2 linked regions of the Homo sapiens genome follow. The protein of the gene in region 1 purifies or fractionates together with the protein of each later gene. This does not show direct contact. Each region holds a gene or a part of one and is shown on either strand. Other genes may lie near its edges.

Evidence for each region. Proteins that work in one complex are often made in the same cells at the same time.
Region 2: the proteins of EPM2A (region 1) and PPP6R2 purify together in Homo sapiens (affinity purification with mass spectrometry, with the first as the bait; one large-scale study listed by BioGRID). This does not show direct contact.

What each region holds. Positions count from the first base shown.
Region 1 is NC_000006.12:145,732,721-145,736,997, forward strand, and holds the start of EPM2A (laforin), read right to left. Parts: upstream 2,801-4,277; 5' UTR 2,779-2,800; coding exon 2,478-2,778; intron 2,201-2,477; exon of another isoform or gene 2,149-2,200; intron 1-2,148. UniProt on the Homo sapiens protein: Plays an important role in preventing glycogen hyperphosphorylation and the formation of insoluble aggregates, via its activity as glycogen phosphatase, and by promoting the ubiquitination of proteins involved in glycogen metabolism via its interaction with the E3 ubiquitin ligase NHLRC1/malin.
Region 2 is NC_000022.11:50,341,943-50,346,126, reverse strand, and holds the start of PPP6R2 (serine/threonine-protein phosphatase 6 regulatory subunit 2), read right to left. Parts: upstream 2,801-4,184; 5' UTR 2,577-2,800; intron 1-2,576. UniProt on the Homo sapiens protein: Regulatory subunit of protein phosphatase 6 (PP6). May function as a scaffolding PP6 subunit. Involved in the PP6-mediated dephosphorylation of NFKBIE opposing its degradation in response to TNF-alpha.

The DNA.
Region 1 (4,277 bases):
GCAGTGGTACAGTTTTCATGTCACAAAATTTTATTTCCTTGTTTACGAGTCTAATTGCACAACGTGGTTTCCCAATAATCATAGTAAAAAATAATAACTAGCCCTTATTTAACATTTACCATATGTCCTCTTGTAAGTTCTTAATATATATCCTATTCTACAAAATACAGTTCATTTATTAGGCAGCTTGGTCCTTTCATTGTGAGCTGAGGTGACACGCCTCAAATCCCACACTGGTTGGTGAGCCCAGGCAATCTGGCTCCAGAATCCTTGCTCTTAAACACTTGGCTACCCTGCTTCTCATAAAGCTCTCTGTTAATTTACGATGTTTAGAATCAGTCTATTTACCTTAAACAAGAAGGCACTGTAACAATTAGAAAATAGAATATAAATTATATAAAACTTGATAATGTAAAAGTCATAATAAACCAAAGTGAGACAGGAAGAAATTGTAATATTTTTCTTATCCTCTCTTATAGGAGTAACTTCCTAGAAAGTCAACAGTCAATTTTTAATACAAAACTGAAAATAATTCCTGCTTGGATAGTAAAGAAAAATATTTATCAAAAAAACTGAAAATAATAGTAAAAAAAAATCAGCAGGGAAGACAGAGAGTGAACTTGAGCTAAATTCCTCATATTTCATAACAAGTGTGATGGTTAATTTTATGAGCATCCAGTAGGTGTCAATATCTATTGCCTAATTTTAACTTTTAAAATTATATATAACTTATATGGTAACTATTAGAAAAATTAAAAACAAAAGTTTGTGGTACCTTAAGAAATAGCAACATAAGCAAACTATTAACGGCATAGGGAGGACTATCAGAAAAGCTAAATAACTAGGGAAAGGGAAGATCTTTGTTTCACACCATTTCCATTTTTATTACAATTATCAGATATTATTTTAAAAAATAATTCTACAATACTATGAAAAATAGTAATACTCTGTAAAGAAAGGATAAACTGAAGAGGGTATCTTTCAATTCTGTCATGGTAAAATAACAGACCAATAAATGCTACCAGACCATAAGCCCAGTGAGGTAGAGAAGGAGAACAAGGATAATATATAAACACATTCCACTCTAATCTTCTTTACTGATTCTTTGTTTCTACATCATTACAGGCTAAATGGCCCATTTTTTTTTTCATATAAACTTCTAAAGAGACATTCATTTCATTGACTTCAACTATTGAGTCACACCCACTCCAGTCTACAACCTTGCACATTTCCTTTAAAGAAAGGAGCTGTCTCAATTCAGACACTGTTGGCGGGAGCCGACATTAGATAATCACCCTTTTAGGGCATAATTTAGCAGTCTTTAATGAAGTGTTAAAAAAAATGACTGCATTTTGACCTAATAATTTCACTTCTTTGAATCCACTCTGCAGAAACACTCCCGAATGTTCAAAGATATCTGTAAAAGGAATTTCAATTAAGCCACTACTGTTTACGACAGAGGAAAACTGAAAAGAACCTAAATGCACATTGGTAGATGCAGAATAATTTGTTGCCATTTAAAATATACATCTACATGTAAAATACATATCTACGTGTAGTGACAGTGAAAGATGTCCCTAACATATTGTTAGGCAAGAAAAGCAAAAATTCAGAATTACTATACAATTTTTGTAAAAAAAAAAAGTATATGCATATATCACATACATAAATGTGTACAAGCAGTGTGCTTAAGATGTGTGGAGGAAACACTGTAAGTTTTCACTATGTACATTTCTTTATTATTATTTTACAACCAGCATGTATTGTTTTAGTATTTTAAGAAATCAGGTCATGTCTCAATTGTCATATATCTGGGATTAAAAAAGAAAAAAAAATCCAAAAAGGGAAATATTCAACGTTTTTCCATTAGTTCATTCTCAATATCTATGAAAAAAATCTAAGTAGCACATTGCTGTCTAGGATTAGCGAAAACGCTAGTTTCGTTGGTTGGATCGTTTTGGGTTTTTTTTAGTGAATTAGAGCAGGAAAATGAGGACACAAAACCCAACCAAGGCGGAGTTGGGCTGTTGAAGCCATCAGCGGCGCGCGGCCGGGCAGCCAAGGGACCCGCGAAGGGGGGGACTCGGAGGTCGAGGGGCACTCGGAGGGCGAAGGGAGCCCCGGGCGGGAGACGAAGGGCACTGGCCCGTGACGCAGGCGCGGTTGGAAAGAAGCTGAGGACTGGATGTGCGGAAACCAGGTCAGAGGGGCAGGCAACAGAGTGGGCGGGAAGGCGGCCGGGAGCGCTATACGGGTCTAGGGAATCAGTAGGAAGCCGGAGGCGCGGCTGGCGGCGACAGCGTGGCCGGCAGAGCAGGGTCAGCCCAGGTCGCCCGGGGAGTGCGCAGGGACGCGGGCAAAAAGCCCGGGACGCGCGCCGCCGGGGCCTGCGGGGCCTGCCCGAGGCCGAGGCCCCGGTTGGGGGTGCGGGCCGGAGCTCCCGCTCTGCGCCGGGGGCAGGCGTCTGCTGGCAATACCTTCCCAGGAGAGCTCTCCTCCCGGCTCCCGCTTCAGGAACTTGTACCAGAACGTGTCCACGCGGCCCGGCTCCGCCCCGTCCTGCGCCGCCTCCTCGGCCGCCAGCTCCACCTCCCCGAGCCACAGGCCCGGCTCCTGCAGGGCCAGGGCCCCGTCGCCCGCCGCGGTGCCGGCCGGCCTCAGGCGGACGGCACCGCGCGGCTCCCAACGCCCCAGCTCGGGCCGCGACCCCACCACCAGCAGCTCCGGCCGGGCGCCGGCCACGGCGGGTGGCACCACCACCCCAAAGCGGAAGCGCATGGCGGGCGGCGGCGGCGCGAATACCCGGGCCCGGAGTCCCCGCGGCCGGCAGGCGCGGCCCGAGCACTAGGCGGCCGCAGCGATTGGGCGGTGGTGTGGGAGCCCCGGGCACCGGGGAGAACACGTGCTGTTCTGCGCCTTCTTTGGGATGCATCACGCGGCTCCCGAGCCCAGACTTCGTCCAGGCCGGCGGGAAGGGGTCAGCGGAGCCGCTAGCTGCCTCTTTGTGCCCCGCAACCCCGCGGGCGGTTGATTTCCACCTGTGGGCGCTGGGGACACGCGACCGGAAGAAATGGAAGAGAAAACGGGGTTCGGGGAGGGAGGAAAACTTCTAAGCCAGGCGATCGTCCAGTTCTCTCTCCAAGAGACTGGAAATTAACTTTATGAGGATCATAAGGAAGGGAATGACCTCTAGACAGCCGCCTTCTAATTGTGAAACGGGGGAAGATCTTGGACCTGGTCTCTGGAGCGCTCCCTATCTTAACCAAGTCACTTACTCTAGCAGGTCTCAGGTTCTTTGTCTGTAAAATGAGGGTGTAAAATAATGATCTTTCTAGACCCTACGAGCTCTGAAGGATCTCTGATTGGTGGAGATCACCCAAGACCCGGAGCTGATGCAAAACATTACCTACCATTCCCTTGTCTGAAAAGCCACATCAACTTTCTTTTTTCAAAAACTATATTTTTAGTATGTGTAAAGTAAGTTTGGAGTAAATACTTTCAAGTCCTTTTCAAGGTCAAAACAAAAACTAATTCTGTGACTACAAATGTATGCTTTTTTTTTTTTTTTTGAGACAGAGTCTCGCTCTGTCCAAATGTATGCATTTTTAATGGAGTAAATTAAAAAAAAAAACCTTTGTTTAAAATTTACTTTCAGCAAAAGTCAGCATTATTTTTTCAACTTAAAACCTTTTTGGGTTTTAAGTTGAAACAGGTTTTTTAGCTGTCTGGCCCAAATCCAAAATACGTATATCTTGGTGGGGAACTTCAATTTGTCTCTGCCATAAGACAAACGAATGTCCTGATACTTTTTGATTCTTTAACAAAATTATCCTTGTATTCTTAGGTTTATATATTCACTAACATTTAACATAACACAAATCTGTTACGTGAATTAAAGACACACAAAGGCATTTTTACCAGTGTTTGGAAGTTTGTGAATAGTAAAGGGGAACAGGCCAAAATTTCATGCGTTGAGGATATAAGTAAAACAGAAAGTGCAAAAATGTAAACTACACAAACTCAATCTCTTGTGGAACAATTAGAAAACTAATAATACATTTTACTCTTGAATGTTGATATTCCACTCGAAGTTTGGTTGGTTGCTAAGCTTAAGGATAAACACTATGAAAAATGTGAAGACAGAAGGGCTGGCCAAACACAGCTGATTCGGCAGCAAATCACACATTAAATCACAGTGGCATGTGAGTCGGTTTATTCAAATTGCTGTTAAAAGATATTCTTAGAGTAAGTTTAGGAAAATAAGAGTCATTTGGCGA
Region 2 (4,184 bases), on another chromosome or scaffold:
GGGCACTGACTGGGGGGCAACTGACTGGGGGAACTGACTGGAGGGGGCACTGACTGGGTGGGTCACTGACTGGAGGGTTCACTGACTGGGGGGAACTGACTAGAGGATGCACTGACTGGGGGGAACTGACTGGAGGGGGGCACTGACTGGGGGGGAACTGACTGGAGGGGGCACTGACTGGGTGGGTCACTGACTGGAGGGTTCACTGACTGGGGGGAACTGACTAGAGGATGCACTGACTGGGGGGAACTGACTGGAGGGGGGCACTGACTGGGGGGGAACTGACTGGAGGGGGCACTGACTTGGGGGGCACTGACTGGGGGGAAACTGACTGGAGGGGGCACTGACTGGGGGGGGGAACTGACCGGGGGGGGGGAACTGACTGGAGGGGGCACTGACTAGGGGGGCACTGATGGGGGGAACTGACTGGAGGGGGCACTGACTGGAGGGAAACTGACTGGGGGGAAACTGACTGGGGGGGAACTGACTGGAGGGGGCACTGACTGGGGGGAAACTGACTGGAGGGGGCACTGACTGGAGGGGGCACTGACTGGGGGGCACTGACTGGAGGGAAACTGACTGGGGGAAAACTGACTGGGGGGAACTGACTGGAGGGGGCACTGACTGGGGGGAAACTGACTGGAGGGGGCACTGACTGGAGGGGGCACTGACTGGGGGGCACTGACTGGAGGGAAACTGACTGGGGGGAAACTGACTGGGGGGAACTGACTGGAGGGGGCACTGACTGGGGGAACTGACTAGAGGGTGTACTGACTGGGGGGGGGAACTGACTGGAGGGGGCACTGACTGGGGGGGGAACTGACTGGAGGGGGCACTGACTGGGGGAAACTGACTGGAGGAGGCACTGACTGGGGGGGAACTGACTGGAGGGGGCACTGACTGGGGGAACTGACTGGAGGGGGCACTGACTTGGGGGGGAACTGACTGGAGGGGGCACTGACTGGGGGGAATTGACTGGAGGGGGCACTGACTGGGGGGCACTGACTGGGGGGAAACTGACTGGGGGGGCACTGACTGGGGGGAACTGACTGGAGGGGGCACTGACTGGGGGAAACTGACTGGAGGAGGCACTGACTGGGGGAAACTGACTGGAGGAGGCACTGACTGGGGGAAACTGACTGGAGGAGGCACTGACTGGGGGGAAACTGACTAGAGGGGGCACTGACTGGGGGGGAACTGACTAGAGGGGGCACTGACTGGGGGGGAACTGACTAGAGGGGGCACTGACTGGGGGGGAACTGACTAGAGGGGGCACTGACTGGGGGGGAACTGACTAGAGGGGGCACTGACTGGGGGGGGAACTGACTGGAGGGGGCACTGACTGGGGGAAACTGACTGGAGGAGGCACTGACTGGGGGAAACTGACTGGAGGAGGCACTGACTGGGGGGGAACTGACTGGAGGGGGCACTGACTAGGGGGAATTGACTGGAGGGGGCACTGACTGGGGGGCACTGACTGGGGGGAAACTGACTGGGGGGGCACTGACTGGGGGGAACTGACTGGAGGGGGCACTGACTGGGGGAAACTGACTGGAGGAGGCACTGACTGGGGGGAATTGACTGGAGGGGGCACTGACTGGGGGGAATTGACTGGAGGGGGCACTGACTGGGGGGCACTGACTGGGGGGAAACTGACTGGGGGGGCACTGACTGGGGGGGAACTGACTGGAGGGGGCACTGACTGGGGGAACTGACTGAAGGGGGCACTGACTGGGGGGGGAACTGACTGGAGGGGGCACTGACTGGGGGGAATTGACTGGAGGGGGCACTGACTGGGGGGCACTGACTGGGGGGCACTGACTGGGGGGAAACTGACTGGGGGGGCACTGACTGGGGGGAACTGACTGGAGGGGGCACTGACTGGGGGAAACTGACTGGAGGAGGCACTGACTGGGGGAAACTGACTGGAGGAGGCACTGACTGGGGGAAACTGACTGGAGGAGGCACTGACTGGGGGGAAACTGACTAGAGGGGGCACTGACTGGGGGGGAACTGACTAGAGGGGGCACTGACTGGGGGGGAACTGACTAGAGGGGGCACTGACTGGGGGGGGAACTGACTGGAGGGGGCACTGACTGGGGGAAACTGACTGGAGGAGGCACTGACTGGGGGAAACTGACTGGAGGAGGCACTGACTGGGGGGGAACTGACTGGAGGGGGCACTGACTGGGGGGAAACTGACTGGAGGGGGCACTGACTGGGGGGGAACTGACTGGAGGGGGCACTGACTGGGGGGCACTGACTGGGGGGAAACTGACTGGGGGGAAACTGACTGGGGGGGAACTGACTGGGGGGGAACTGACTGGAGGGGGCACTGACTGGGGGAACTGACTAGAGGGTGCACTAACTGGGGGGGAACTGACTGGAGGGGGCACTGACTGACTTGGGGGGGGCACTGACTCCGGGGGCACCGACTGGGGGGAACTGACTGGAGGGGGAACTGACTGACTGGGGGATAACTATCTGGAGGGGGCACTGACTGACTCGGGGAGAAGTGACTTGGGGGGCACTGGCAGACTGGGGGCCGGGTCTGAGCGGCGGGCGGCCGCACTCACCTGCCCTGCGGGCCGGGCGTCGCGGCAGCTCTTCGGAGGCCCGTGTGGAGGCCCGAGCGGAGGCCAGGGCGCTGGTGGAGGCAAAGCCCGGGCGGCCTCGGGCGGGCCGCACACACATGGGCCCGGCCGAGGGCGCAGCGCCTACGGACACCGGCACGGCCGGCCGGCGGCTCGAGACCGACTCGGGGCCGCGGGCGGCACTCCGATCGCTCCAAAATGGCGGCGGCGGCGCACGGGCACGCGCTCCGGGGGCGGGGTCTCCGCTTGGGGCGCGCACGCTCGCGGCCGGGGGCGGGGCCGCGCGGGTGGGCGGGGCCGGGACCTGGGCCGGCTCTCCGGGCCCCCTGGAGTGGGGCACTCGGTGAAACCCGCGTGGGAGCACGAGGGCTTGGGTGTGCTGACTGCTGCCTTGGAGTGGGTGGGGTAAGAGTGCGTCTTTCCCCTTTTACGTTTCCCTTTGAGGTATTGGCTAAAGTTTTGTGCAAGCATAGTTAATTTTGTTGTAGCCACAAAACAATCCTCGCGTGGCCCGACGCAGCATTTGAGAGACACACACCTGGGGCAGGGGTTTCCCCCGTGGCCCAGGAAAGGGCCTGTTCTCCCGGGCCTCCCTCCTGCCACAGGCCCCTCCCAGAGGCCGCGGGGCGTGGACGCCCCGAGCAGCAGGAGCGGGCTCAGCCCCGGGCGCCAGGCCTGGCCCCTCCCCGTCCCGCGTCCTGCCTGGACCCGGAGTGCCTGAGCCGCCTCCAGACAGTTTTCTCCAGGTGCGCTACGGGTTCTTGCACGGCGTTTTGCAAATTAAGTATGTGCCTATTTAACAAGTGCTGGAATTGTTTAATTCCATCAAAATAATTTCAAAAATGATTACTATTATTTCAGATGTTAGAGCGAGCCGTGGGTAAATGTTGGGAAAACATGGAGCACTTAAGGGATCTCTAAACGTTTTTTCCAGTTGTCAGTGTATTGCCCAGGATTCACCGATGCTCTCTGCGAAAGCGTATCTGGGCGGCTCAAATATTCGGTATTTCTCTTTTGCCAGCTGGCGCTGTTAGGCTTTGTCGGTAGAGGGCGCCAGAGACGTTGCAGGAGAAAAGGGCTTGGCCCTGCGGCTGGCGGCCCCGGGCTTCCCCGACGCCTGTCCCCTGCCCTGGTCAGCAGCACCCTCCTCGCCGGTTTTATAGCAGATGCCTCTGGCGAGCCTTTCCCCAGCAAAAGCTTTTCCCCTAGCATCCTAAGGGGCAGATTTCTGGCAGGTTCCGTTGAGGGAACTTCCAGGAAGTGGGGGTGAAAAAGCCTCAGCCTCACAACCTAGAGAAGAGACACCCTGCGTTCAGCAGGCTATGCCCTTCTCCTGCCCTCACCATGGTCTCCTTTGCAGGAGCGGGAGGTGCTGCTGAGTTGAGCTACGGAATGGGGACTGGGGCCAGGGGCACCAGATGCAGGAGATGCTCCTGCTGCCGTGAGCACGTGCAACTCTGCCTGATCTTGATACCCCTCCTGTGCTCAGCCAGTGCAACTGGGGTGAGCAGGAGCCCCTCTCCTCCTCTTTTTTTTTTTTGAGACGGAGTCTCGCTCTGTCGCCCAGGCTGGAGTGCAGTGGCGCGATCT